Regions from separate parts of the Homo sapiens genome. Here region 1 is linked to region 2. Evidence: fine-mapped expression QTL. Tissue or cell type: spleen. Region 2 holds a variant in brackets; the other region holds the start of a gene. All regions are shown on one strand. Distances are from middle to middle.

Region 1 (16,168 bases), 20 kb before region 2:
AGAGAGTGTATTTCTGTGCCTAGAGTTTTTTTTTTTTTTTTCTAATCCTGAATTAGGCAAGGGTGAGGGGTGGGGGCAGTGGGCACATCTGCATAAGCAAAAGAAAATAAAGAAAAATTTCCCTGAAAAATTTCCCATAACATAGTTCGTCGCTGGAGCCAGGCTACCTGCTTTTAGATCTTGACTCCACAATTTATAGCCATGACTTTGTCTGGCAAAAGTGACTACCTCATCTACGAAGCATCTACAATAATATTATCTACCTCACACGATTGTCGTGAGACTAAATGTTTTAAGAAAAGTAAAATATTTGCTGCTATCACTGCTTATAATAATTAAATGATTCAGAGTTAAGCGGGATTTTTTTTGAAGAGGATATATATAATATGGCCTCAATATTTTTTTGCCTCAGATACAAAGAAACACAGCTCCTGTTTTGCTTCTTTAATGACCTGATAAATTCATCTTAACCATAATTGCTTGTATGTTTCAAGTCAATAATTTCCATAAAGCCAATACAGAAGACCATCATCATCATTTATGTTCAATTCAGATGAAGCTTGCCTCTCAGGAAAAAAAAAAAAACTTTCAGAATGTCTCTACAGTCTTAAGAAGTCATGAACATAAATACTTCCAAAGTGTTATAGAATCTATTTATTGAAATCTTTATTTTTTCCAATCAAGCTAAAAAGAGAAGTTTTTAATCAAATTATTAATTTGAAAGACTATAATTTGCATGTAGTTCACTAGTCATAAATGAGAAAATAATTCAAGGGAAATATATACATGAAAAAAGATAATAAAAATGGGAAGCAATAATTTACACTTAGTGAAAAGATTCTTGATATGTAAATTATATTTAAATAAAGCATTAGACATTTGATATTTAGCTTTGGCTAAAAGTCCAAAAGACAAGTTCATCTCAATATTTATTTCCTTAAGAAAATCATTGTTTTATTTCCTAACAACAAAATAATTTATGTTTGTGGTTCTTTTATTGTAGTGTATCTTTCTATGCTTAATCCTTTTACAAAATTTTATATAGTATTCAAACTGAGATAAAAATATCAGTTTTGTAAAAGAATCATATAAATAAATTGATATTTAAAATAATTTTTTGAAAAGCAATTATGCAAAGCTCAGATTATGGGGAATTTTAGATACTTTGATTTATGGTTAATTTAGACTTTAAGAAGAAACCCTTTTTTATGTACCAACTTTTGCAATTAAAATATTTTTGTCAGGCATAATTTTATTTGCTTTCTGTAGTGGGAACAGTGTGGTGAATGTAATTGAGTTTTCAATGATAGATGACTGTAGAGTGCCTCACAGCCACAAATTACTGTCTATACACAATATTGTCAGTGTAAAGTTTTATGAGAACGAGCCGAATGTATGGCCATCACAGGATGTACATAGAGTTTGCTGTTTGGATCCAACCTATTTTCCAATTTTAAAGTGAAAAGTAGTATATTTTTAAAGTGGTACATCGAATTAAATATGTATAACATATATATTTTATAAGTAATGATTCTTAAAGTCAACCTTTAATATAACCTTTTCCATAAATTTGTTTTTTTTCTCTTCTATAACTTATTTATTTATTTTTTTTATTATACTTTAAGTTTTAGGGTACATGTGCACATTGTGCAGGTTAGTTACATATGTATACATGTGCCATGCTGGTGCGCTGCACCCACTAACTTGTCATCTAGCATTAGATATATCTCCCAATGCTATCCCTCCCCCCTCCCCCTACCCCACCACAGTCCCCAGAGTGTGATATTCCCCTTCCTGTGGGAATTGAACATACTCTTTTTTACCTAATTTTATTTTTTGTTTCCCCCTTCCTTGCAAAACTGTGACTTGAGCATATTCCGGGCGTTGTAAACTGTTTCTATTCCAGTAGGTGTCAGGCTTTCCCAGCGTGCAGACCACAAAGGCAGGCTAACGGATGCCGTGATGCAGAATTCTATGCTTAATCCAGTTCCTGTAAACTGACTCTCTTAGCATTTACCCCCAAATAATAAATTTAAAATTATAGTTTTATATTCAGAAAAGCAGAAGTTGTGCGAATACAAAAAGTTCCCACTTAATTATTAGGAATATATAAGCACTCATTAAATTCTAGCATATGAAATGCAATATATATTTATAGTAACAGAGTAGAAACAGCAAAGTAATGAAATAAAGAATGTGATTAATGGGTAAAAGTTGATAGAGAATATACTTTATGTAGTGTTTATTTCACTGGCAGTAATGTAATAGAGACATCTATTTCACAAAGATATAAGAAAATACCCTTTAGTATAATGGTTTCTCTTTAGAATTTAACAGCATGTAAGAATAACCCATTTTGGATGTTATTAGGCCTAATAATAACTTTGAAAACAACACAAGAATTTAGCTGATCAGATAATTCACTTCTAAAACCTATTCATAATTCACACAAAATGAGCAGAAAAAAAGTATGACAGCAGAATTTAATGGTTAATTTTTGTAATTTTCTAATTTGTCATTAAACTCAGAATAATTTTCTAATTTGTCATTAAACTCAGAAATAATAATTTCTAATTTTCTAATTTGTCATTAAACTCAGAAAAAAAATCCCTCTTTTTCTGCATATTCAAATTTTACCTTCCTCTGACCCTTCTCATTAACATGTTAACATATGTATGAGCCCTCTGTATTTAAAATGAAATATTATAAGAAACAAACACAAAACATAAATAACTGGACTAGCCTTGGCTTCTGACCACTTTCTCCTTTTTTTTTTTTTTTTTTCATAAAAGCCCTCCTTAATTGAGTTGGCTTTAATGGCTCTCTTTTGCCTTCCTTCATACCTCAATTCTCTCAGGCCAGAGCATGGTGCTCACTAAACTGAAATAGTGGCTATTTTTCAGTCCTCATTTTGTCTTTTTCAGCAGCATTTCACACTGTTGATCACTTACCTCCTTCTTAAAATATTTTCTTCCTTTGCTCTATGACACCACACTTTTATAGATTCCTTCCTAACTTCTCTGGTCACCCCATTTAAGACTGTATTGTTGGCATCCACCACTATCAGTTCATCAAATATTAGAGATTCTCCGTTCATAATTCAAGGTCCTTCTTTCTTTCAGTATCATCCACATTCATGACTTAATACATTTCTATATACCAATGCTTTGCCAAATTTATATCTCTAGCCTTGATCTCCCCTCTGGATGCCAAACCCATCTAATAATCCATGATTTTACAGAGTTTTATTGAGCTCTTTCTATGCACCTGGCACTGTTCTAGGCAGCAAATAGAGTAGTAATAAGACAGGCAAGGTCCCTGTTTTCATGGGATGTATTGCGGAAAGACATAAAATACACCATTGTCTATATAAGTAGAATAATTTCAAATAATTCCTACAAAGAAAAAAATAAAGGTGACAAAATAAGGAATGGCAAGTGAGAGCATAGTTAACTTTACATTGGGTGGTAAGAGAAGGTCCCTTTGAAGAGGTGACATTAAAGCTGGAGGTGCAAGTGGAAGAGGAGTCCTTCATTATAAAAGGTGCAGAAAGAGCATTCCAGCAAGAGCAAAAAAAGTTTCCTTTGAGATATTAACTTGACATGTTCAATAAACAGAAAGGAAGCCAGTGTGGCTGGAGGAAATGAAGTGCAGTGATCTTGGAGTGTGACAATGAATGAAAGACCAAATTTCACACATTTTAAGACATACATCTCTGAAATCAAGAATGTGTCTTGAAATCAAAGGCATTTTTCAGTCACTAGTGGTCAGATAGCAGTTGTTGCCATTGCCTTCGAAATACTTTACCAGTTTCATTTACATTTCCTTCTTAAGTTTGCAAAAGTGATATGTGACCAAAATCTCAAAGTCTGAAAGACAAATCTAAAAATTCAAATTAAGCAAGTATGATGTCATACTTTTCCTTCTGATTAGTACCTAAAATAATGTGTCACTTACAATAATGAAGACTTAATCCAGTGAAATGCATTAATCTGACTTAAATGTTCAAAAGATCCCTCCCTTTTGTGGATCATGGATTATGGTAGACAAGAGTGGAAAGAAGTGGACCAATTAGAACACTAGTGGTGAATAACGGCAAGTAGAAGATGGAGAGAAGTTGAGGTATTTGGGATGTATTAGAGGTGTAACAAGACTTTTTGATAGATTAGATAAAAACCAGAAGGGAGAGAAAAATGCCAAAGATCTATCCAAGGTTTCTAGTTATGGAACTAGCCATTCACTGATTTGGTAAAAATTAAGATACATGTGTACAGGGGTTGGGAATTGTGGGAAAAGCTAAGTAGGCAGTTAGATTGTATCATTACCTCATTTCACCTATTATCCTCTCAGGCAAGGTTTACTGACCCCATTCACAATTGGTAGGCCATTCCCCCCATTATACACTACAATTTCTTAAGCTTCATTCAGAATCAGCATTTGTGATTCACTGTTATTCCTCCTCTCACCTCTGCCACTGGGCTGTTGGTTCCATAAGGCAGGACATGTAGGAGTTCTTGTTCATTGTTTTACTCCCAGCACAAGCACAGTGCTTGGGACAGATAAGGTGTTCAGCAAATATTTGTTCAACATATAAATACACTAATCCTAATTTCTTATTTCCATCCTTCCTATTTCAAAGTGCTTGGTCATTGACTAACACCCACTCTGCCAGACAGGAAACCATAGGTCTATTTTGGCCAGGAGTTCCTGCAAGGCTAAAAAAAAAAAGAAGAAAAACTACAAGATGAAACAAAAATATGCCAGAATAATCCTGAATAATCTAGAAAAGAACCTGTAATAAACATAAATACGCCTTTTACTAAGAATTATTATAAAATTCCAAGAATGGTAGAAAAAAGAACAAATATGAGTTTATTCTAAATCAACCAGGTTTTTTTCATAAACAAATGCAAATATTTGGGAAGCTTTCTTCTTTATATTCACATATTAATCCTCATATTTCACATTCAGTATGATTAAATATTGATTGTGTACCTGCTATAAACCAGAGACTTTGCTAGCTCTGAAAATAAGTCCCTATATGCAAAGATACTACAAATTCATTATGATTATTATGTAGTGTCGTAAGTGCAGTGAACAGGGGAATTCAAAGAGACCTGTAGGAGCGATTAGAAAGGCCACCTAACTTCACCTGAGAAGGCTTCCTGGAGTTATTATTAGGTGTGAAAAGAGAGAACGATGGCAAAAGAGGGCCCATTGTTAGTCACAGGGGCAGACAGGGAAGAAAGGTGGGTTTAACAAACAGCACATATTGTACCAGAGAACCACTTATTTGAATAGCCGGAAGTGGCGGAAGATGAGGTTGGGGAGGTAGGCAGGAGGCAGATCTAGGATGGCATCGTGTGACTAACTGGGTAACAAATCTAGATTGTATTCTGGAGGCAACCAATAGCCTGTGAAGCCTCACGAGCTGGGAAGTGAACTGGTCACGCTTATCTTCCCACTTGTGATAAGAGACTGTACCTGCCAAGGGAGTGTAATGTAGGAGCTGAGAGCTACAACTCTAAAGCCAGCCAGCTTGGATTTGAGTCTTTGCCCTGAGCTTTGTTAGCCAAGTGACCTTAGGTAAGCTACTTAATCCCTCTGTAAAGAAATAATGATAAAAATCTTCCTCTTCTTTATGGAGTTATAGTAATGATTAAATGAGTGAATATATTCACTGACAATAGTAGAGTACTAGTAACAGATGCCATATAAGTGTTTGCTACTATTATTATTATTATTTGCCAATCAAATGAAAGTACGAAGGACTTCTTTTGACCATATCAAGGGTTTGCAGCAGCACTGTGTCCAAAAGTGAAGGACCTAGGCTTTTCTCTAATGCCATTGTCATTTGCATGGCCTAATGAGTAAGGAATCTTGGTAATGGAAAGGATTACTAAAAGAAAACCTCAGGCTCTCCAGGACCTCAAATAAGAGAATCCCTACATGCAGTTAGTACTTTTCTATAGAAGGAGTTTAAGATTATTTTTGTTAGAAAATCCAGAGGATAAAGTTCTGTTCAGCAAGTTATACCTTTAGTATCTTGTTTTCTCATAGCACATATTAACATTTTTTGAAGTCTGATAGGTATGTTAGTGTTTACTTTTTATAGGGAATATTCCTTAGACAGAGGAATTATTATTATTTTTTTAAATTCTGTGTAACCCAAAGCCTAGCACAGTGCTAGCACATGATGGGCAAATTATAAATATTCATCAAATTGTTCCCAACATTTGAAAGCAAGGACCTTGGATAACACAACTAGCATTTATTTAAAAACTAGTATTTATCAAACTATTAGTTACTAGTTCTAATTATGACACAACTGTATGCCACTTTCTATATGGTATGTAAAATTTAAATGCTATTTTAACTTGAATTGTCTCTTTTTTCTGTTTATTATATTTCCCTTTCTATTAAAAAATTCTGGCTGGGTGCGGTGGCTCACGCCTGTAATCCCAGCACTTTGGGAGGCTGAGGTGGGTGGATCATGAGGTCAAGAGATCAAGACCACCCTGGCCAACATGGTGAAACCCCATCTCTACTAAAAATACAAAAATTAGCTGGGTGTGATGGCACACCACCTGTAGTCCCAGCTACTCAGAAGGCTGAGGCAAGAGAATCGCTTGAACCTGGGAGTCGAAGATTGCAGTGAGCCGAGATTGTGCCACTGCACTCCAGCCTGGCAAGAGAGCGAGACTCCGTCTCAAAAAAAAAAAAATTCTTAGCTATAGCATCTCTGAAAAGCTCACAATCGTTTCCCATGAATGTCCAAGGGTTTTACTGTAATTAGTTTTTAAAAATTTAATTACAGCCTCTAATAAAATATGATTAACAGAAATGATGCATTCAAGTGATTTAGAAAAAGCTGTCAATAAATGACATTTCTGATTATTTAATAGATAAAATCCTGTTGTCCCCCAAAGTGAGAAAGATTAATGCATGTCTGTTAAATGTTTTTTTAATGGCAAATCTACTTGTCCCAAAGTGAACATATTGTAATCTGTACTATTTGTTTTACAGTAAGCTGGGATTGTTCCAAAGTCCACCAAGTGAATACTTTTTTAGTTACAATCAGATTTACTTATATATTTCGAAAAATTCTATAACTTTTGAAATATAGTGAAAAATAGACTTGAATAATAAATAATACAGAAATAAGTAAATTCATTGGCTAGAATTCTTACCAGTGTCTCTCTTCTTCTCACCTTTATATCAGCAACAGCTTTAACTAAATGTCTTTCACATAGCAGGTGTGTCAACTTCTATTTTTAACTTGGATTTTATTTTATTATTAGTAAGATATTTAACCCCATTTTGCTCCCAAGACATGTCTGGTGTCTTGACTTTGTATTATTACATGTAAAAACTATTTGTAAGTTTAGTTTTGCAATACTAAACTTCTAGTATTCCAAACATACAGATGACTCTGAGCATTAAATGAATAAAATATTGACCCACCCAGATATTTTTTCTTTGTTTATTTTGATTTGACTATCACTTCTTTTGAAAACCCTCTTTAACAACACTCCTTTAAATTTGTTTTATTTTATTTCAACCACTCAAATTGCTCTAACTTTAAATTAAAATTAATTTGAAAAATAAGTTTTCTGATTCATCATATTCATGATGGCAACACAACTCAAAATAATCATGGTACTAGCAAAATTTGAGTTGTTGAGCACCTATTCTGTGAGGAGCATGCATCTAAGCACTTTTCATTCATTTTTATCTGAACGAGAACCCTGCAAAGTTTTATTTTTATTGACATTCCTTGTATTAAATCTGTAGTTTCCATATGAAGAAACTGAGGTTCACAGACATCAACTGAGTTGCTCAAAATCATGGAACTAGACCATACTGAAGCCAGGATTGCACCCCTGGTGTGCTTGTTTCGATCTTTGACAACTGTTACTTTTTATAATACTGCTATTCCAATTTTCACATCTGTTCAAGCCCCAATTTTATTTATTTGTTTATTTTTGTCTTTCATATTGTGAATATGGTTGGGAACACAATCAACATATCCTTGAATTAAACTAACAGCCACCGTGGTGCTAGTTTGCTTGGCAATGACTATTCTAAGTAAAACTACCTCTATAAGTGAGTAGAAAAGTGAATGATTATTTCAGTTAAAACAAAATTGCTGCATTTTATTTCTTCATTTTTCCCTATTAGATAAATTAACAATAACTTTATCTAACTGAAATGGTGAAATTATAAATATGATCCAATTTCATCTTGAATTTGAAATAATTTTCTGGGAGTGAGGTAAATTTCACTTGCAATCTTCTAGACCTGATAGACAGAGAAAGAACAAAAAGAAAAGAAGATTTCTTACTTTCCTCTAGTTGTTTCGAAATTTGATTTTTGGTAGTCAGTTCTTTGGCTGGAACTGCTGTCACCCCGGCTGAGGTATGTTTCCCGTGGGGCTCGATTTCCCACGCCTCCAGTGCCTCCAACGCCTCCAATGCCTCCAGTGCCTCCAACTGTGTTTAGAGAAGTTGCTTGTTCATTTGACTTTCTGGCAAAGCTCTGAAGAAATTTCAGTGTAGAATTGGAAAGGACCACTGATTCTGCTCCAGGATTGAACTTGATGCTAGCGTTGGTTGGGAGGGTAAGATTCTGTAACTTGACCACTCCTTCTGCTTTCTCTGTGGATGTGAGAGTTTGATTTCTCACACCCTCAGCAGGTGCACTTGTTTCTGAGGGAGGCAGTGTTGATTTAAGAAGACTGTCTTCAGAAGTTCTTGCCTCTGGAGTTGTAGCTATCTCCGCCGACATGACCCGAGTGGTTGGCAGTATTTGCAAACTTTGTATTTTATTTGGAGGAACTGAAGCAGAAGGCATAGTCTTCTGAGAGTTCCCATCCTCAGGTATAGTCCAAGAATGCTTACTGTTGTTAAGCCCAATGCCCCCACTCCATAAACTAGAAAGAAGGACAAATAATCTTGCCCCCTTCATCTCAGTAGTTTGAAGCAAGGTAGCTCATGTGAAATTTGGGGACAAAATCCTTATGGCCTTTTTGATAGCTGCTTCCACACTGAATCTGCTAAGACTGAGTTTTGCCAGTTTGAGATGTGTAGAGGAAACAGGTTTCTGTGTTTTGTAGCGTACTCAGGAAGTTCGGTTTCCTGTTTCTGTAGGGTTTTTGTGATCTGTGACCTCTAGTGGGATGGCTCTATGGAAGTGCTGAAGGGTCTCTGACAAAGCTAAGGGTAAATGGGAAAGCACAGGCAATTATTATCAGGAAAACCCATGAAAAAATATGAAGTAACTTTCTTTTCCTGAGCACACCCTGGTTTCACGTTTCACTGATTTCAAAGAGAAATTTCAGGTTCACGATAGAGAGTGCAAAATTTTGTTGATATAGGCTGAATACAGTTTTAACATTTTGTTCTACTACATAAAGACACTGAGAAAAGTTTTTATGATACTTATCTGCTGTGCTCTATCCAGAAAGCTGCATTTTGTTCAAGTGTATATCCACATGCATACACATAATCAAAAGCTTGTTTACAGTGTCTCTATCCTTTCATATAGTACATATACTCTGAATTATAAAACATCTATCTACATACATGTATATCTTTCTATTTTTATAAATACACTTCAGCTGTATCATTACTTAATCTCAATGATTATAAGTAATAACAGAAAAGGAAAGCATAAGTAATTGAATTAGACAGGTATACCAGGAAGTCACTTTAAATTTTGCTCCTGGAACTTCTACCAGAGATACCCACTAATGGAATAAATAATCAGAATTTTACTTCCTTTATTTTCCAATCACGATTGTCTGATGGTTGGGGGTAACCAATATTTTACTAGTAAGGGATAGATGAAGAAAAAATGGAGTCACATAAAAATAAATTAAAATGGGATCATATAGAATGCTTTTATACATTTACTGTAGGACAAAATTATGCCAGTTGTAGGTAGCAGAGAACCAGATTTATCTGAGTTTTCTATGGGTTTTTTTCTGGTAGAGATGTTTCATGAGATTTATCATTTAATTTCTCCAGCAAATCTCTGATCCTCAGATTTCAATTAACCTCTTATCTATAAAATTTCATATCAGTCTGTTTAAATAGATATACAAACTAAGTTATAATAGTTCATTCATTCATTCACTCATTCATTTATTTATGTATTCATGAATTCAGTAGTTACATAACCCCTCATTCTGTGCAAAGCACTCTCTTATGTGCTAGGATTATAAGGAAAACAAAAATATTCTTTGCTGTCAATTTGCTAAATGTCTGTTATGTTATTTGGAAGCTAAATCCATGTGTAACCCATTTTTCTGTCAACTTCTGTGCCAGGCATTATGCTCTTGCTAAATATTCAGTCATTGATTGTTAAACTATTATTAGATTTTATTTTTTGTTATTAGATTATTAAGTTCCGTCTTTCAAAATTAGAGAATTGGAAATCTAATGCCTGCTTGGTTATGTTTTATTGTAGATATTTTCTCTAGTCCTTATTCCTGGACACAGTGCACCAGGATTTGAAATAAGGCCTAATTCTTCCTTGAGCTACTAACTACTTGGGATTAATATTTTTTTCTTCCCTCAATCTTTGCCATTTATTTCCGTAAGTGTATTGTTGACCTACTAGAGAGTATTTATTTAAACTAAGACAATCATCAGCAACCCCAATCGACTCTGATATGGAGTAAAAAGCATCCGTTTCTCAGATATACCACAGAACAATCCACAAACCTTGCCTTAGTAAAGGAGCAAAAAGGTCCAGCAGAGACAATCCAGGAAACGATTAGTTACTAAAAAGAGCAAAAGAGCAATGAAACTGCACAACTGTCACAATACAAACATGGTTTTCAGTAGAAAGAAAAAGGCTTTACAGTGTCTTTATCTGGAAAACACAGAAGAAACTAGCTTTGGCTTATGGAAGAGCAGTAATTTCATAAAATTTAGGAAAAATGTTCCTATTTATATTCAATTTTACACCAATTTTCCTAGCTTTAGTAAAAATAGATGAATGGACTGTCTTGAAGATTTACAAAACTGCCAAAATAATGACATTCACTGATTTTTTGTTTTCTTCTACAGTTTGAAAGACTGTTCAAACCTGGTCTGGCAAGTGAACTTTAGTGGTAAAATGTCACCCATTGGATCTATAACTGATAACAAATAGTTATCCAATGATAATAAAAACTGAACAAAGCTAAGCAATTCATTTAACCACTTATAAGGTATTGACCAATAATGACTTTTGCTCACCCCTATCCTAGCTTACAAGGGACCCTGAAATCAAAAGGCTAAAGGTTCTGTATCTCACTATTGATCTACTAAGCCATCTTGCACTTTAACTCCCCAGAGAATCTCAAGCTCATTTAGTGATTTTGGGTATATGGATCAGCCCTTAATTAGAGGTATAAAATACTCCAGAAATTGTCAGAGACCTTGTCTCAAATTCTTCTTTCTGAGACTAATTAATACTCATTAAATAACAATTAAGAAAAATAATATTGCTGAGATGACTGGCTGAAGAGTACTCAGTTTACTCATTCTTCTAGATACTATTATACTAGATACTAGATACTAAAATACTATTGTTGGATTAAACTATATCATCAGTTTTGTATAACTGGACCCTGTCATTTTGCTATACCTCCCATTTCCCACTTGGTTGTTCATATTAAATTATGTTTTACCATCTTGCCATTTGTTCACCATGAATATTTTATAAGATAAAAATCATGAAATTTATTATATTATGAGTTATCAGGAGATTTTTATGTCATTTTTCATTGTATCATAAACATAGGATTCACTATATACTGCAACATGGGTTGTCTGTAGGTGATGAGATAATGGGTTTGGTTCTTTTCCACCTTATAATGCATATGAATTAATTTTCTAACCACAAGAAAAAAAAACAAAAAAAGATTATTAAGTTAAAAGAAAATATAAATGTGAGTTAAAAGAGAATCTTAGATTGAGGAGTTCACTGTAGATGGTGCTGTGTACTATTCAAAGCATTTTTATAGCTGCAAGACTTATTCTTTGTAAAATGTTGGGGGTATGGGCTAACTTCCACCAGATTAATAGGATTTTTCAGCAGCTGTTTTCTTCATTTTTCACATGAGAAATTCCTATTTTCTTAAAATAGTTTAAAACATCCAAAATATGATTTCATTATTACCTTCCTCCATAAGACATATCTGTCAAAAAATAATAGAAGAAAACAAATTTTAGAGCTTTTTCAATTTAATGGTGTTTGAAAAATATTGAAAACCTGTCAAATTTACATGTGGACAAAGGGGGTTATCAACATACAGCAAAAGGGCTGGAGAAGAAGAGAAACTGATTTCTGCATGATTTTGATGAGTCGATGTGCTAGGTAAGTTAAATTTGGCATATTATTTAATTCTTACAAACATGTTAGGTAAGTATTCTATTCTTGTTATACTCATGGGAAGTTAAACTTAAAGAAGTTAAATAACTTCCTAGGGTAACACATTAGTAATTGTTAGAACAGATATTTATGCCCAATCCTGATTCAATAGGTATTCGGTAAATATTTGTTGAATCAGTGAACGAATAGATGAAGCTATGACCATACTCCTATGTATAGTGATAACAAATGGGTTGAAGAGGGCTCTATTTCACATTATTATAGCCACACAAAAGAAAAAAAAAGTAATCTAAATAAATATAATGAACTTGTTCCGGGAACACACCTTCAAAAGTCTTCTGAAATACCCATTCAGTCAGATTGCCTCCTGTAAGTTACTCCTAAAGAAAATTCAGAAAGCCCATTGTTTCTATATTATCTATTCTCAAAATAAATATGAGAAGGTTTATTTTGAAGCCGTCACAGCCACATTAGAATAATAAACCAAAGACTGGGAGTTGTAGAATAAAAGATAATGAAGCAGTAGTGATGCTAGAAAAATTTAAGATAAGCAAATAAATTGGAAGTAAGAAAATTTAGGTTTGAGTGGGCTGGCAGGAAAGGGAAGATGGACAATTAATGAATTATATAATTCTTAATATTAAGTGAGAGAAACATATTAGTTTATCAGGAAAAAAAAACAACATATTTGTCCTAATATTAAAATTTTAACTTTATAAGATCATAAGGAACATACTGATAAAGATGACCAAATGCCCCTCATGAGAAAATGAATGTAAGAATAGTTCACAAAACCATGTCATTGCTGATTTTATATTTCCCATTTACGCAGAACAGTACCCTTGAAGTGAAAGAGTTCAAAACGCATTTCTTTTGATCATTTTAGAAATAACCATATTTTCATTTTCTTAATGGAAAGCTGTATCTGGTTATCAAGTGATTATCATTAGTGACTTCCACTTCTGGAAATATGGAATAGACATATCTCCCTATTCCTTCTGCTAAGTACATCTGAAAATATGGACATTATATATAGAAAAAATAGAATAAGACTCTGAAGAGTGGAGAAAAGAAGGCAGAATGGCTAGGTGACCCAAGGAACAATGAAGCACTGAGTTCCCAAGTTTACTTTTGCCTCATTTCTGGGTACTGGAGAATTTGGCAAACTAGGAACGCCAATGGGCAGAAACAATAAAAGCCCCAATAAAAGCTCTCTTTAGGCCAAGGACTAGAGAATTGTCAGCCTGGAAAGAAGAGAAAGTTTTTAGAAAATAACCACTCTACTCCCACCATAGAGCACAGGGGAAAAAAAAAAAAAAAAGCAAAATAAAAGACAAAAGAACCCACCCTTGCCAGCAAAGCCTGAAGGGAGAATTAAACTTCCACCTCATGAGGTTATAACAAGGTGTCCCAACCCTCATTCTTCTGTTGGGGTAGTCTCAGAGAAGGCCAACAGAGGAGCCAGAAATTTCTTCATCAAGAAGCCTCGCCTGAGTACACTGCCATGGCTCTCCAAAAGCTGAGTGAAAAGAAAAGAATGAAAATCAGTAGCTTCAAGGCATGGCAGGTCTTCACTGAGTGACTTTGGAGGAAAGGTCCTCCAAAGGCTAGAGATAAGGCAAGAGGTTGGAAAGATGTCTTCCAAGGTATAGAAATGCAGGGGTGGGTCTGGAAAGAAATGAGAATGTACTAGAGATTGTTTTAAAAATGATTTTTCGTTGCAAGTAGAAGAAGATTTTTCATTGTAAAGTAGTGTTTTAATCATCCTCTCTTCACCCCATTGGTGAGGGAGGAATTCCCACCCTAAGGTTATAAGAATGGGTGAACACATGATGTCTAGTGTTGAATTGATGAGATTGGAAGCAGTTTATACATAAACTAAAGCCCTGGGGAAGAGGGCACAGCACATCACGCAGGGCCACACCAGGGCTGCACTCGGGAATACAGTGAACAATCAACAATGCTAGAAGGCGGACTTTGTAATATCAAGAGTATGAGGTGTCCCCTGGCTCCCACAGGCGGATGTGACTGGCTTGTTCGAATAATTCTGTGGGCTGGCAGGGAACTGAAACCTACTACTCAGGGATAAGCAGGAACTATGCCTGGTCCCTTTGATAAGGCAGTGGATACTGGGCTGGGGACCTTATCCACAAGAGCAGAGTGGGGAAGGAAACTTTTGGGTTAAGGCCCTCGACGCCCTCTGGTTTCAGATGTCAAGACGGCACATAATTCTGTGTCTTAATTTTAGGCCTCGTATCACACACAGTTCAGAGAGCTTTTTCTCTGTATTGTCAAGGATAAAGAGCTCTCCAGAGCTTTGCCTGTGCTCAGATCTCAAAATTAGTTGAAAGGAAAATCCTTATCACGTCCTCAAAGTATTTTAAGAGCGTGGTGAGTTAAAACTTAATGCTACAACAATTTTGGTTTATATTAGACCTAGCTCAATTACAAATTGGGATAACTCAGCTCCTACACTAAACGGCTAACAGAATAAGAATGTCCTTCTCTGAGGTAAATATTATTTACTATAGCCTTTATTATTCTTTTAAGCATAATGCCTCATACAATAAAAATTGTAAGACAAATAAAAAATAAGAAAATGTAATTCATGGTCAAGAGAGAAACCCTAAAAAAATCAAGAAAACACCAAGATATTGGAAGTATAAGAGAGAGAATTTCAAATAACTATGATAGAATGTGGTATTGAAGATGGGCAACATGTCTGAACAGAACGGGAATTTCAGCAGAGATAAAAATTATTTTTTAAAAAGTTGAATGAAAATGCCAGGAATAAGACATATCAAAAATGAAGAAGTCATTTGATAAGCTTGATAGCATACTGGAAATATCAAAGAAAATAAGCAGTTAGCTTGAAAATAGGTCAGAAGAGATTATCAAAACTGAAACACAAAAAAGATGAATATGTGAACGAAATACACAGTGTCGAGATCTGTGGAACAATTTCATATGGTTTAGCACACCTATAAATGGAGGGAATAAAGAAGAAAAGAGAGACTAAATAGGACAAAAGATAATTTTTTAAAGATTTATAGGTAAGAATTTTCCAAAATTGATGAGACACAATTGATGAGTTATCAGGAAAAAAAAAAACACGCCATATCACATAAAGGGGAACACAATTATAGCTAACTTTTCATTAAGTCAGATAGATGAGAGAGAGCAATAGAATTACATCTTTAAAGTGCTCAAAGGAAAAAAATAACTTGCCAACTTATAATTCTATATCTTGTAAAAATATCCTTCAAAAGTAAAGGGGAAATAAAGACATCTTTAATAGGTAAAACGTGAAAGAATTTGATTTCAGAAGACCCACCCTATAAGATATACTAGAGAAACCCATTGCGCTAAAGAGAAACTACAGAAAAATGGAGCTAGATTGACAAGAATGAATGGAGAGCATCAGAAAAGTTAAATATATATGTAAACAAATTTGATATTATCTTATCAATTAAAAAATGTAGATAATTGATATTATCTTTATTATAGAGTCAAAAAAGATGAATATGTGAACAAAATGAATAGTGTCTGAGATCTGTAGAACAATTTCATATGGTTCAACATACCTATAATTGGAGGAAATAAAGAAGAAGAGAGAGAGCATTATAATTTCATATGTAGTGTGAAATTATAATGAATTAAATTTTTTTTTAATTTGACTGTTGAGATAAAAATCACAGCAATAATGTATGGTGAGATTGATAGCATTTGTAGTTAAAATTCAAGACAGAGGAACACAAAGAGCCTGCAGGTGTGTAAATGGAAT
Region 2 (16,168 bases):
TCATAGATTTAAATATAAACATTAAAACCATACACCTTGTAGATGCAAGTATAAGGAAATGTCTTCATGGTCTTGGTATAGAGAAAGATTTATTTGATAGATACGGAAAACATGAACCTTTTAAAAATAGTTGAAACACTGCATCTCCTCCAAATTTAAAACTTTAGTTTATCAAAGGACATAGTTGAAAACAAATTGGCAAGCCACATCTTGGAGGAAAATAATAGAAATTTAGATATTTGAACAAATTACTCCATTCAAAATATAAAATGAATTCTTATAAATTAATAATGAAAAGACAAGCAATCCAATTAATAAATTGTCAAAAGCCCTGAACAGACACATCACAAAGGAAGATACACAACTGGCTAACAGACATGTGAAAAGATGTCTCAGCATCTTTAGTGATCGGAGCAAAACAAAGCAACTAAAACTACACTGAGATACCATTTCACACCCATTAAGAGACCTAAAATTTAAAAAGCCTCATAGCACCAAATGTTGGATGGGAGTGGAGTGAAGCAATCAGAACTCATACGTTTCAGGTAGAATAAAATGGTACCACCACTTTGGAGAATTGTGCAGCAATTATAAAGTTGAAAATTCATGTCATCCATGATTCAAGAATTTTGCCTGAGATACTTACACAAGGAAAATAAAAAATGTGTCTACAAAAAGACTTGTTCAAGAATATTCGTAACAGCCCAAATATAAGAGAATATCAAGAGAAGAAGATATAAACAAGGAATGGAATATTACACTCATACAATGAAATAATATTCTGCAATGAAAAGCAATGAACACTGATACATGCAATTACATCTATGAATGTCAAAAATCAATATGATTACTGAGAGATTTGAGATGAAGAATAATGCTTATGTTATAGTTATATTTATATGAAGTTCAAGAGCAAGAAATACTAATTTACAATGATAGAAATCAGAAGGAAGTTTCTTCTGGGGAGGAGAGGAGGAAAGATTGATTGGATAGGGACATGGAAAGTATTTCTGGGATGATGAAAATATTTTACATCTTGCTTTCGGTTGTAGATTCTGAGTAGAATGCAATTGTCAAAACTCATGAAGCAGAACACCTAACAGCTGTGCATTTTAATGTGTATATATTACACATTAAGTTTTTAAAGTGAAAGAAAAGAATTTAATGAAAATGTAATAAAGAATGTTTGCCTCTTCCTATCATTGTATTCATCTTTCTTAAATCAAGTATTCAATCTTTTGCTTACTGAATACAACATATATATTCTTCTGGACAGCAGCGATTATCTACAACACAGAGAGTCAACTTAAATTGAACTGACATTTATCAAAGATGTAATATGACTAGGACATTAAATGGAGGAAAAAAATGCAAAAGAGCATTAAGAAAACTTCACTGTTAAAAGTGTTCAACTAAAATTTAAGTTTTCTAAAACTAGATCAGTAGTCTTTCTATACCTTACTCTGTCTTCATTCATGTCCTCTTAAAATCACCTAAATGCACATAAATTTAAAACTGAGAAGATTTTTTCTAATTTTATTAAAGAAAGAAAAAATGTTCAGTATTGTTCTTAAGATTATATATATTTATATATATACTGTTATACAAAATAATATTGATAGAAATGTTTCAATATTAGGAACATGGATTTATAGAGACAACAACAATAAAAACTCATAGGAAGTAGTTGAATAGCAATCCAAATTCTCTTTTTTACATGACAAAACCCACTTAAGGTAGTAAAATTAAGAGACAACAATATCCCCCACTCCATATCATAGTAATTAAATTAAAGACGTATGGTCATTCTAGTGAATGTGATTGTGATACATCAACATCACCAAAATACTAACGTAATCTTTCTGAGAGGGTTATTTAGCTTAAATTTAGAGAGACCCCCGCTGCTGACAAACTTTCATTAGTAATAAATTTAAGGTATAGATATTGGAAACAAGTGTTATGATCAAAGTGAAAATACAAAATAGCCCAGAAAGCAATTTACATTCATCTGAAATATTTTCAATAATAGTTAATGCATACGTTATTACACTAGACTCATTACTGTTTAGCTCTGAAAGGCTAACTATAAGTTTAAAGGTAGTGCAACCAAAGCGAATTCAGTACACAACTTGCAACAATATATTAATGAATTGAAGCAGGTGTACAGCACTTAATTGGGCAAAAATATGAATCAATACTAGATGAATCAATACCAGAGCTGTAGTAACAGTACTGACTAGAAAAGACTTCTTCCATTCACCATGGGCACCTTTGACAAACACAAAACGGCTTTAATGAATATTAAATAATATTCTTTAATTAATATCAATAATATTCTATCATCCTTCATTTACAAGAAAATGAAAAGGCATATAATTCTTTTATACACACATTAGAATTCATACAAAATGAGAACACCTGCTTTTACAGTTAGAAGAAATCATTTTTAACAAAACAAGTACATACAACATTCATTCTCAACTTGTGGAGATTTTGTATGTCATGACTAGAAAACGGCCACATTCTGTTGGAGTCCTTTAACACCTCAAAATAAGCAGGTCCTACATTTAAGAAATGTGTTACAAATGTATTTGCTTAAAATTTACAAATGTAGTTTGAGTTTTGAAGTAAGTATGTGCCAGATTGGAATTTAAACTTAACTAGATGCTAGCATATGCCCCAATAAAATTAAGAAGTTGCCTCCACTGGCAGTTAATTTGTTGCTTAGCTTACTGTATGCAAACTGTGTTATCATTGGTTAAATTAAAGAAATTAGTCACTGAAAAAGTTCCAGTGAATACAGGCAAAGCAATTCTGCAGATTTGCATTAAAGGAGCCAACAAATGCCTTACCCTTAATTTATCAGTGCTTCTGCTACTAAATCCCAATAGTTATTACATTTATCGACTTTATGAAAGCACATAGTTTTTCTCACATTTTTATGGACTTCTTCCCTCTCAACCCTTTAACATTTCTTTTAGAATTACATGCAGTGCAGTGTAGAAAGAAATATGAGGATCAAGCCTGAGACTGTTTTTTAACATCCCTGCTGTCAGGGATTGCTGGTGTGGTCTTAGACACATCCCTTGATCTTGCCAAGCCTCAGTTATCTCCTCTGTATTCTTCTTCCCATGATTACATGGGTCACTGCCTAGGACTGTTCCATACAATGTAAAGCGAGATATTGGTAAAAAGGAGAGATGTTATATAAGAAACCAAAGCTATAATTTATCAATTCTTAAATGTCCATTATGTTTTCTCTCCTCTCATCATGAGAAGGGACTGGACTCATCTATCCTTGAATTTCTTTGATCTTCAAGGCAAAGTTATTCTTACTCTAAGCACCACAGAGCCTTCTATGTGACTCACCTTTTCTGTAAATTCTTGTTGGACAACTTGCAGATTTTCTGAATTTTCTGATGCCAATAGAAGGGCAGATTAATACTGATTTCCTTCTTTAGGTAATTATAGTAGGTAATGGTTAACTCTTTGTGCACTGATTTTGTGCTAAGCACTCTATTAAGTGGCATATAAGCTATAATATCTTTTTTAATTTCTCTAAAACTCTTGTGACATAGTGACTCAGAATCCCCATTTTAACAAGCAGTCAAGTAACTGCCCAAGATATGGCAGCTGAGAGGGGACAGAACTGCCATTTAAACCCAAATCCTTTTACTTTAGGGCTTAAACTCAACCTTCTCCCCCAACTTAACTGATTTCATGTTTTAATTTAGATTCTTAGAAATTGTGTTGACACAAAGAAGTCAATTTCTGCTACATTAGAAAACATGTAAACAGCTAAACCAGAGTTTGACTTCAAAAGAAAAGCAGGCAGCTATATTTGTAAGTGCACCAATTGTCCTCCCCCAGGGTTTCTATACCCAGAGCAGTCAGAATATCTGTAAAATTAAAACCAGCATCATACCATGTCCAAAAGATTAACAGTTCCACAGTACAAAGTTTGTTGATTTAGTAGTGGATTCAGTCTGTCAATCAAAATGCCATAAACAATAACATGATAACAGTTTTCAACATAAATGCTTTTCTTCAGGCTATTTTCACATGTCTTGTTGAATTCTGCCAGAACATTTTCTCTACACATTCTTACTGCATTCTAAGTGCCCATTATAAAGGAAAATTATGCTTTTTTTTAAAGACAGTGTATGTTACACAAAGAGCTAAACTACTAATACTTGAAATAGACCTGTAATCTTATTTGAAGAAACATTAACAAAGTTCTATCTTACAAAAATAAGCAAATGTTAATTTAAAAAATTATCGGTAGCTCTTACCTTAATATTCTTTGCCCGTGGTTATAACCAAATGCTAACATCAATAGAAGCAGAAACCTCTTGGCCTCTCTGTAGGCTGTCTCCAAATATTCACTTATTTTCAGAAGCAGAGAAAGACAAGTTTGAAGAGGGCGGGGAGAAAACCACCCTTACAATAGCCCTGCCATTATTCTCTCAGTGAATGCCTAGCAACAGAAGTCCAGGGACCTAGAAACTAAGATGTCTGAGGGCACTGACCCCCAGCCTGCCTCACGTCCTTTCAGTGTAGCTAGGATCCTAGAGCTCTTACTAAAAAGTGTTATACAACCTGAAGGTTTAGCTGCCACCATGATTAAAGTGTTCAGAATAATGTTACGGCTAAGATAATTTTCTCAAAAATATTGATGGTATTATATCTTCTTGATTAACAATACTTCAGCCAGTACTGAAAATAGGCCTAATAGATAAATCTTATACATTAAGATTTAAATGTTTAATTCCACCCAGTTTAGAAACTAAACAAAAAAAACATGGAAGCTGGGGTAATCTCCTGCTCTAACTTTTTGATTAACAAGATTATTGCAACCCTGGATTACATTCCTGAGAGCATTTCATAGTCACCCACAAGTCATTGATAAAATCTCCAAGACTTAGCTAAAATATTTTATAATTTCTTATACAGCATCTTTAAGTGGATGGAAAATGAGTTGCCAGAGTTTGTTTCATAAGAAAACTTCAGTCAGCTCTAGTGAGCTGAATCTCTTGTACTTAGAGTCCTTCTCTGTTGCAACATTTGTCCTATTTCTTCTGTTGAGTAACCAGACCTTCCTCTCCGAATTGGTGGTGGGGAGGGACTTGTGCTTTTGTTCATCATTTTAATACCAAAGGTCCAATCTTGCACATGACAGGTGATTGATAAATGTCTTGAATTGAAGTGACTTCCTATTTGCTTTTGTAGCTCAAAGTGGTGGAAGCTGTGACATAAGTTTGAGTTCTTCCCCACATGTATTTTGCTCTCTTATGGATTTTTCACTGATCAGCTAAGACTCCCGACTAAGCACATTGTTCATTGTTGACAAACAGTCTCCAGGCTGTTCACTGCTGAAAAAGTCTCCAGACTTTGCACATTCAGATCCCTCTGCTTGAACCCTTTTGAAAGGCCGAAGTGCCACTGTATCTAAATTTCAGCGAGTTTTAAAATATTATACTTTTGAGAGACAAGACAGAGTCTATACAGAGGAAAGAAAAACTAGAACATGGTGTTCTTTTTTAAAGTGAAGCAGGCATTCCACTAGTTGTTTTGCTTTTATAAAATGAGTAGAACCATAACATACTATCATAAATCTCTCTCATAAAATAATACAAATTCTATCATAGAATTCCATGCAAACATGACTTACCAAATTCATGAACAGCATTGAGTTCAGCTCTTCTCTACGTGGCCCTATCCTATCCTATTTAGAGTCAGGGTACATAACTTCTTAATTGCTTTATAAATAAATTATCCCATCACAAGTAGACTAAATTAATAATGAGTTATAAGTCAAAATATTTTTGCTTTGACACTAATGTTTGATTAAACATTACCTTTTAAAATAAATTATGCTTAGGTGGATATATTTTCACATAATTTAAAAAGGCAGATATTTATAACAGTAATTATCCAGCAAAATAAAATATAAAATTATGTTCATATTTTAATGTATTTTATTAATACATTTTATATTTTTATTAATGTTGCTGTAATTTCACAGCAACATAAAACACAAGTCTGAGAATTCAACAGAGAGCACTGTGTGGCCATGAGGCACAGTATCAGACATGACAAAATTGAGCTCACCATGTGCTAATTATTAGAGTAAAATTCGTATCTTTACTAAAATATTACAAAAAATATGAAAACAGCAATGCATAATTTAATACACAGTATATTATATGTAATATAATATCTGTAGAATTATATATTTAGCATATATAATATATAAATATATATACATAATATACACATATAGCATATGGAATACATACATAATTTAGTGTATGTGTAGTGTGAATGCACATATATATATATATGTGCACACATACTAAATAACACCAATAAAATATAGGAAGAAATAAGCATTTTAAAGAACAAGGAACAAAAAATATAAAGAGCTATGGAAGTTTTCAGAGGTTTCTTTTCATTCATTCATCTTTACAAATGAGTGTGTGTGTATGTGTGCACGCGTGTGCACGCACGCACGTATAGAGAAAGAGAGAGAATCTCTGCTTGGAAAAGTAAGCGTCAGAAGGCAAGAAATGTTGTCTTTTATCCCATCACTGTATTTCTAGAAAGTGGCACATTTCTATGTTTTATAAATAATTGTTGAACGAATGCTAAAAGCAGTTCTCAAAAACTAAGTAACGCCACATATTCTGAAGCCCTTTTTTGTGTGTGAGATGGAGTTTCCCTCTTGTCACCCAGGCTGGAGTGCAATGGCTCAATCTAGGCTCACTGCAGCCTCCGCCTCCGGGGTTCAAGCAATTCTCTTGCCTCAGCCTCCCGAGTAGCTGGGATTACAGGCGCCCTACACCACCCCTAGCTAATTTTTTTTATTTTTAATAGAGATGGAGTTTCACCATGTTGGCCAAGCTGGTCTTGAACTCCTGACTTCAGGTGATCCGCCCTCCTTGGCCTCCCAAAGTGCTAGGATTACAGGTGTGAGTCACCATACCCGGCTTTTTTTCTGAAGCCTTTTACATCTCTCAGTATTACTTTTTCTTCTGCAGCCAGGGGTAATTTATGGAAAATGTTAATCAGAGTATGTATGCTCCTGTGTTTGTTAAACTTTTATCTTCCCGTTGTGTCTAAAACATTGCTCAGATTCTCAGGCACGAAGTGGTCTTCTTACCACTACAATTGCATCTTCACACCCACCATTTCCTTTGCCTACTAGGTCCCAGCCACACTGGCATTCTTCAGTTCTCAAACTTGCCTTTTAGTAATTGAACATTTTCTGCTCCCTGCCTAGAAATCTATCTTCCCTTCTCCCCATGGCTGTTTCCTTCTCATGGTTAATTCTCAGCTTATATAACTCCCTCTTCTCTGTAAATATCTCCTTAAAAACAATATATTTCACAATTATTCATTTACTGCTCATTTCCTTCCTACCACATATCACAATTAGTTGTTCCTTTACTTATTACTTGTTTTCAATCATTCTCCCCACTTGAATCACTAAATTCCATAGTGGCAAAGGAACATATCTATCATGTTCATTTGTTTGATCATACTGCCTGGTATGATATTTTACATACAGTAGGTGCTTAATAAATATTTAAGTGAGTGGTGAAAAGTAACCTTGAACTCCCATAGCTCTTCATTTGTATTGTGCTATAAGCACTTCATTCTACCTTGTATTAGAGTGATTTGGAATGTAACTGGAATGTAAGGTCCTCCATGAGTCCAGTGCATATGTTTTGATTTCCTTCTTTGTCTCCTATAGCACTGGTGACAGATATTGCTAGCTATTTGCTGTGGTAGATGATGTGAATTACTGTACATGCAACTCCCAGTGTCACACTCTAAGACACTCTATAATTCTGCTGGTGTATAGACAGACGTACTAATACATTTGAACTTGGAATTGAACATTATGAAACTTTGGTTTAGGACACTGAGTTTTTTTGGTAGATGGAGGTGTGGTCTCTTTGTCTGTAGCAGTACTGGCAAAGTATCGATAATCAAGTTCATCTAACTTTACAATCTTCATTTGCCTCATCTGCCAGTAATACCTGCTTCATGGAATTATTACAAAATGTAAATAAAATAACACAGAATTTAGCAAAAGACTTTCCATGTAGAAAATATTTAATAAATGTTAGATAAAAACATTATCAGTAATGTCTATTTTCTCTCTGTCTCTGTATATTACCAAGCAAAGGCTCTAGCTTAGGAGAGAGAATTAAAGCATCTATTTGAGATATATGTTTGAGTGGATATAATGACTTATTTTTGTATTTAAGACAAAAATGAGTTGAAAGTAAAGATTTTATTTATGAAAAAAATCCATAGAACACCTTTATGAAAAAGAATTCAAGGATACTTTTGCCATACTGAACTACTGGCAAGAAAAAGATATAAAACATAAAAAAAGATATTAAAAACCTTATAATTAACATATATCCATGAGAGTGGAAAAAAATCAGTATTTTACATTTATATGTAAAATATTGCATATATATGTATATATGTACATATGCTGCAAAGGTGAAAAAACAATTCTAGATGCTGGAAATTAATTTTATAATCCAACGCCAGTCAGGTATCTGCCTTTATTATGAAAACTATATGGTGACTTGAATATCTCAGAATTTTCAAGTATCATCTTCCAAAAATCTCTCTCTCAAATTTGAATGAGACAGATAAATTCACCATCAGTAAGCATATGATTGTTGGAATAGAAGGATAGGATGGTTAATTAAAGTTGAGTCTCTTCTGTTCAGTTTGGGTTTGGAAATGTGCATTGGAAAATGACACAAAATCATATTTTTCTGGGATTTGATGAATGGCGTGATCAGCACCAAATCATTTTCTACCCTCCTTACATCAGGTGATTTGCTATTGAAGAGTGTTTAATAAAGGAAAGCCAAACTCAATACATATATGAAAAGAAGGAAATGCTATCATTGATTTTGAACTAAGAAAGGAGAACAGTTTTTATTTTTATGAAAACCTTATTTAACCTTTAGGGAAATATATAAAGAAAACATTTAAGGCTTTGTAAAAATCCTGACAGATTTTATTACTGAGTGTACATGTGGCCTGAATCAAATGTTGCTTTGTAAACGTGTTGAAATAATGTTGGAACTAAGACCTGACATTACTAATTGTAATAGGTTGAACAAATGCTTATTTGAAAGAATACTGGGTCTCCACTTACTCCTGCTGGGACCATTTTCATTTTCTGTGCTCTGTCATCATCACCTGG[G/T]CTGCTTTTGCTATTTTCTTTTCTCTAGCTGTTTCATATAATGTTTAAGTGCATCTAAGCTGTACCTATGTGAGCTAAGTCCTCTATGATTAAAAAAAAATTGCCGATATGTGATTTAGATGATAGTATAACAAATTAGTTGTATTATTAATAATAATGATGAGAAAAATCATACAAATGCATTATTTGGGTTGTGCACCTTTATTTGAAGTCATATATAGTGTCAATTTTAGAGTATTTATAATTATAATTAACTGCTCGATTATCTCCTTAATTTAATATTCAAGAAATATTAAAATATTTTTAAAATAGCATACACTTAAGGCAATAGTACAAATACAGTGAAATTGTCATTTCACTTTAAGAAATGCCATCAAATTTGGGTGTTGATTCAAACAAATCAATTGCAAAAAGACATTTTGAGAAAATCAGAAAAATTTAGTTATGGACTGAGTATTAGATAAATAGGAATAATTTGATTTAGTCCCATGTGATAATTTTGTAGATATATAAGAATATGGCTATACATTTAGAGATGCATGCTGAAGAACAGAAATCCAGTGATATAGAATTTCTTTAAAATACTTCAGCAAAAGGAAAAAAGATTTAAAAACACAATTTTGTCAAAATTGTGATACTTTCATTTGGGTATTGGGTATATGGGAATTTATTATTTTCTTTTTTTCTAAATTTTTAAAATGGAGAACTGAGTAAATAGGCAAAATCTATGAAAAATTGATTGCTTGGAAATGCATAAAAAATAAATATGACAGTCGTTTTGAAAATGCCATCCATTTGGCTTCCACACTGGCTGCTTTGGAGGCTCTTTCCTAAGGACCCTTGCAGAGGCCGTTTCTTCTCTCAGAAACACTCTTGCCCAGGTTTCACAGGGCTCTTCCAGAGGGCTTGCTCCCTCACCCCTTCAAGTCTTTCTTTATTTGTTACCTCATTGAGCTTTTCCCTGATTATTTTATTTACACAGTAATACCCACCACCCTCCCCTAATGTTCTGTATATGTTTCCTTGCTTTATTTTTCATATAGTGCTTATTATTGCCTAATACACTACACAATTTACTTTTTTTTTTTTTTTTTGACACAAAGTCTGGCTCTATCGCCCAGGCTGGAGTGCAGTGATGCTGTCTTGGCTCACTGCAAACTGCCTCCCGGGCTTAAGCCATACTCCCACCTCAGCCTCCCCAATAGCTGGGACAACAGGTGTGTACCACCATGCCTGGCTAATTTCAGGCTGGTCTGGAACTCATGAGCTCAAGTGATCTGCCCGCCTCGGCCTCCCAAAGTGCTGGGATTATAGGCATGAACCACTGCGCCCAGCCACAATTTACTTTTAATTGTGTATATTATTTGCCCCCCTCCTCAGTAGAATGTAAACTCTGTTAAGGCAGAATTTTACTTCTGCTCTAGTAACAGCAATATTTCTAGTACTTGCTGAATAAAGTAATAGGACAGATTCTGAAAGATGAGAGAGTAGCTATATTTCTGCTTGTGGTTACTAGGCAAAGGTTTAAAGAATGAAAAAAAGGTATTGAGGGAAGAAAGGCAACATTGCAAATGTGACTCACAGCCCATATAGGCCAAAAAGTGCAGAAATATTCCCTCGTTCAAAAATATCTCAGAGAACTTCTCACACCCTAAAATTTCATTTAGATTCACAAGTTCTGCTTTAAAATAAGCCTTTTGGAAAATTAAACTTTTATTTTCTTATACTTCATGATGAAAGTTTAGATAGTTGATTCTGTGACAATCAAGAAATGATGAACGTTTTAATGGGAATATGATGAAAGATGAGACCATGTTGGAATATACCAGGTGAGGTGGTGAACTTTAGACAAATAAGCGCTAGAAAATGGATAGAAAGGATGAAGTGGCGGTGAGGTTCTGAAGTATGTATAGTGTTAATGTTTAAGTCAATTATAATTTTATAACAAAACTCTATGTTTAAGAAATTAATTCCTTTAAAGGCCGAGGCAGGCAGATCACTTGAGCTCATGAGTTCGAGACCAGCCTGATTTCTAAAACCTGAAATCAGAATACTTATTCTGTTTTTAAAATGTATAAATGTGTAATCTTGCATTTTATAGACCTAAACTCTGACTGAAATAGCCTTATTTTTTAATGTCTTACTGTTTTCCAAAATTGTGCACCTAAATGTATGCTTGGGTTGTCTTACACCTAGATGCTGAGACAAGATTTTCATCACCTATAATTTTGCTTCATCTATTTAGGCACCTCTTTCAATAAATATCAAACAGAGACAAAGTTCCTTAGTAAGAGATGTTTAATAAAAAAGGGATATAGAAGGGAAAGAGAAGAAGCAACAATAAAAAAATATTAAATGAAGATAACTAGTCACTTAAAAAGCTCTCTTGTTTTGGTTTTCTAAACTGCTTTTTGACTAGTTGGCAGTGTGTTTGGGGTAAGTTACTGGGCCTATGTTTTGTTAGATATAAACTGAAGGGGCTCCACTCATGATCCCTAGATGCTGAGACAAAGTTCCTTAGTAAGTAACGTCAATGATGTCTTCGAAAAATTTTAGCAACCTGTCGTAGGTGACAAATAGCCAGAGAGAGGGAAGGCCTGATGTGTATCACTTACCAGTTCTGATCAATTTCCACTGTATAAATATTCCCTCTGTGGCTACTTTGGTGGGCTACCAACATGATCCTATGAAATAAGATTTATAATTTAATTCCATTGTGTTCAGAGAACATGTATTGTATGAGTTGAATTTAAAAATATTTTTTGAGCCTTGTTTTTTGGTGCAGGATATGGTCTATCTTGTAAGATGTCCAATACACATTTGAAAATACTGTTTATTCTGCTGACATCAGGTGTAGTGTTCTAAAAATATCAATTAGATCAAGTTGATTGATAGTGTTATTTAAGTCTTTTATATCCTTACTGAATTTCTGTCCACTTATTTCATATATTGTTAAGGTGTGTTGAAATCTGTAACTATAATCATACATTTGTCTATTACTCTTCGTAGTTCTGTTAGTATTGGCTTCTTGTATTTTCATGTTATTAGATACCTGGAATAGGCAGAATTCTAAGGTGGTCCCCAAGATCTTGCTCCCTGATGTGCATGCCCTGTATAATCCTTGGAGATTATCCTCAGTGAACCTGGCCTAATCAGGTTAGTCCTTAAAAGGGACAAAGGTTCTGGTGAAAGACATTCAAAGTATTAGAAGAATTCCATGTGAGAAGGATTCCTTGTTCCTGGCTTTGAAAACAGAGGGGGCCATGTGGCAAAATAGAGTTGACCTCTAGGAGCTGAGTGACCTTCAGCTAACAACCAGTGAAGGAATGGAGACCTCAGTTCTATAACTGCAAGAAATTGAATTCTGTCACAGCATGCGGGCTTGGAAGAGGCTCCTGAAATCCAGACTAGAATACAGTCTAGCTGCCACATTGATTTTACCTTTTGAAACTGAATCGAAAATGTTATGTTGAGGCTTCTGAGCCACAGAACTGTGAGCTGATAAATGGGTGTCTTCTAAAGACATTAAGCTTCTGGTAATTGGTTATGCAACAAAACAAAACTGATACAGTGCATAAACATTTTAGATTATTATGTCCTCTTCATTAATTGAACACTTTATCATTATGAAATCATCTTCTGTATCACTGGTAATAGTCTTTGATATGAAATCTGCATTGTCTTATATTTAATATGTCCATTCCACCTTTCTATGATAAATGTTCGCATAGAATATCTTATTCCATCTCTTTACTTGTAACCTAATTATGTTTTTATATTTAAATTGGATTTACCGTAGACAGCACGTAGTTGGGTTTTACTGTTTTATCTAACCTGATATTGCGTGCTTTTTAATTGCAGTGTTTAGACTTTTACATTTAGTGTGATTGTTACATGTTGAATTTAAGCCTCCTGTCTTGTTGTCTTATATTTGTCCTAACCGTTCTTTGCCTCTCCTCTTTTTTTCTTTTCCTACCTTCTTTTGCATTAATAGAGTATATTTTATGATACTACTTATGATTCTCCTTTGTTGGCTTATTAGCTATAACTCTTTATAGACTCATTTTAGTTTCTGTAGGGTTTATAGTGTCCATCTTTAACTTATTACTGCTTACCTTCGAGTAATATTATACTACTTATTGTAAAGTATAAGAACTTTACAAAAGCATACAATTTAAAATTACCCTTAGAATGACTACAGAGGACAATCTAATTCTAAAAAGGAGTTTACAATTTCACGTGTAAATTTAATAACATTGGAAAACACTGCCTCAAACTAAGTTGAAATAAGCTACTATGAAATGTTAAACTACTTCTGTGAACAACAGCATTAAGAAAGTGGTCTGAAATGTAACCCAGGCTAAGGATCCTTCTGTAACATTGCAAACTTAAATTGTTCAGAACTTTCCTGAATTTCCTTTTATCTGTTAGTGTGTTAACAATTTTATTATACCAACAAATCTGTTTGACAAACTGTGGAGAAACAGTGACAGAGATGAAGCAATAAATAATGTGTATATGCAATATATTAGCTTATTATGAAAAAAATAAAATAAAGTTCAACATATTTCTTTGAAATTACAAAGCCTATTATAGAATTGTTTTTTTAAACACTGAAGTAAACACTTAAAATTTTTAGTAGTAAATTGATCACAAAAACCAATCATGTGTAATTTGAACTATCTTTTTTCCTTGTAAATGTAATGGGAAATGTTCCCTTGTCCCCCTTGCCAGGGCGTGCGATGGGGGTGTGGCTTGCTTCTTCTTAATAAAGGTATTCTTTTACTTTTCCCTGTATCTGTAAGATTAATTACATAAAACATTTGAAACATTAGGTGTATTTAAAGAGAAGAAATTATAAAATTCACATTATCATAAGTTAAATATTTTGAAATATTAATTTTATTCCTCCAAGTGTAAGATATATATTTATGTGTTGCCATAGTCACATGTTTACTCATAGTTGAATTTAATCTACTTGTGTTTCTGAGGCTAAGAATGACTTTTTTTAATTAAAAAAGAAAGAAGAATAGGAAAATTTTTTTAGTGAATCTAGAATTATCTTCATTATTTGGAACTAAAAGCCACTCTTATCTTAACAATGGAATGTAAATTAAGGTGCATTATCTTTCAAAACTGAAAGTATCTTTATCTCTGATATCTATTATTTTACTTATTATTTTAAAGCATAATCTGAACTAGGCATATTTTTAATAGTTGCTAATTTTTAGGCAAATACGTCATATTTATAACAATTTCAAGATTCTACATGTTAATCAGTATAAAAGAGATGACAAACGCCTTTGTATGTGGAAATACAGCATGAACAAAGCTTTGTAACTTTTTCTCTTGAATAAATTGAGAACATGGACAAAATTAGTCTTAACCTTTTCTTGAAAATTAGTAGAGAAAGAAATTGTAGCTTTTAAGGGCATGCAATTTTGTTTCTAAACAACAGATGGCACTATCAAATTCTAGATTTACTAAAAATTTTTTCTATTTTTCTCCCTTTTTTAAAATTAAAGAAAGTCATAATAACTGTCTTAGCTTCAGAAACACAAGTAGATCAAATTATAGAATTACAGCCTTTACTGGCATTCAATCTTGAAGAACAATATTTGTAGGATCTTGAATAAAATACTGCTTTTTCAAAATTAACACTTGATGGTAGTTAAAAAGCTGTTTGATCAAATTTTAGAAGTATTAACATCAAAACAAATGAAATCAATGCTCATAATTGATTTACACCAATAGCAACTGAATTCTCCACTTTACAACTAGGATATTCTCTTCTGAGCATCAGTAGAGATAAGGATGTTCTGTGAGGGAAGAGGCTGACCTGGACTACACTAGAACTGAGTAGCCTCTGGGAAGCCCAATATCTGACAGTCACATAGAACTTAAAATGCAAATCAGGTCAAATAATAAAATGATCAATTTGGTTTTTTTTCTTTCCCTCAAGAACTATAGTCAGGGTAGGACATTTGGAGACAGAGCTGAGAAGGAAGAATGATTTTTAAAAATGGTTTTGTTCTCACAGAAAATAAATGCCCCAGTCTGGTATAGGAAAAGCAGACTCATTTATTGTAGAATTTTGCTATGGGCATGAGTTCTTTGGCAGGAGTGCCTACAGTCAGCAACTTTATCTCCATGACTCCCCTATTCTGGTTCACTCCATAACTGCCAAGTAAGGCTGGAGGTAAAGTTGCCAATTTCAACCATTTATTTATCTATGTGTTCTCTTATATCCTACTCTCAGCAATCCTAGTGAAATACCAGTCTGTTGTATCAAGTATTCTTTCTTAGAACAACCTTCTAGAAATTTAGCCTAAAATATTCTTGATCTCTCATTATCCCATTTCTCTTCTTTATATCTTTTTTCTTTAAAAAAAATTCAAACTTTTTCTCTCTAATGTCTTCTTTATCACTCAAGAGTAATTTATCACATACCTTTGTTCTCCTTACTTAGCAAAGTATTAATAATTTATCCTTTTCCATTTTTCCTACATCAATCCTTTCAAATTCTTATTTTGCTTGACAAAATAGATATGGAATATAACTAACTCATTTTAATCTCACTTAATATTTTTTCCACTTTAGGATATCTCTTTATGTGTAGCTTGGAAGAGCCCCCTACTTCAGTTTATATGTTCGCTATTTTTATTTCTCTTCTGAACTTAGATAAATGGATTATTCAATTATTTTGAGGGTACTATGAGCAATATACAATTGCTCTTTTAATTTAGTAACAGTGAGAGTAAGTTTAACTCTATTTTCCCAAGACTGAAAAACAAAAGCCTTAAGTAGTAGTCACTTTCCATTCTTGGTTGTGCAAAACTCTAGGGTTTCATTAATTACCTTCGGATGTCATGATGTTCTCAAAAACAAACCAATATAAAACTAAGGAGTGTCTAAGGCAAGCTTGTC

Evidence for each region. PIP is the estimated chance that this variant, and not a neighbour inherited with it, causes the effect.
Region 1: MMRN1 starts here. The variant in region 2 is fine-mapped to the expression of MMRN1 in spleen (GTEx, PIP 0.99).

The regions. Positions count from the first base shown.
Region 1 is chr4:89,887,771-89,903,938 of GRCh38, reverse strand. It overlaps MMRN1 (multimerin 1), which reads right to left and starts at 9,085. Exons shown (of 8, transcript NM_007351.3): 1 at 8,345-9,085. The coding sequence starts at 8,967. RefSeq lists a silencer at 5,434-5,634.
Region 2 is chr4:89,867,727-89,883,894 of GRCh38, reverse strand. It overlaps a transcript of MMRN1 not described here. Among named protein-coding and RNA genes, the nearest start is that of MMRN1, 19 kb to the left of the region's middle. The variant G/T (reference allele first, on the strand shown) is at 9,242.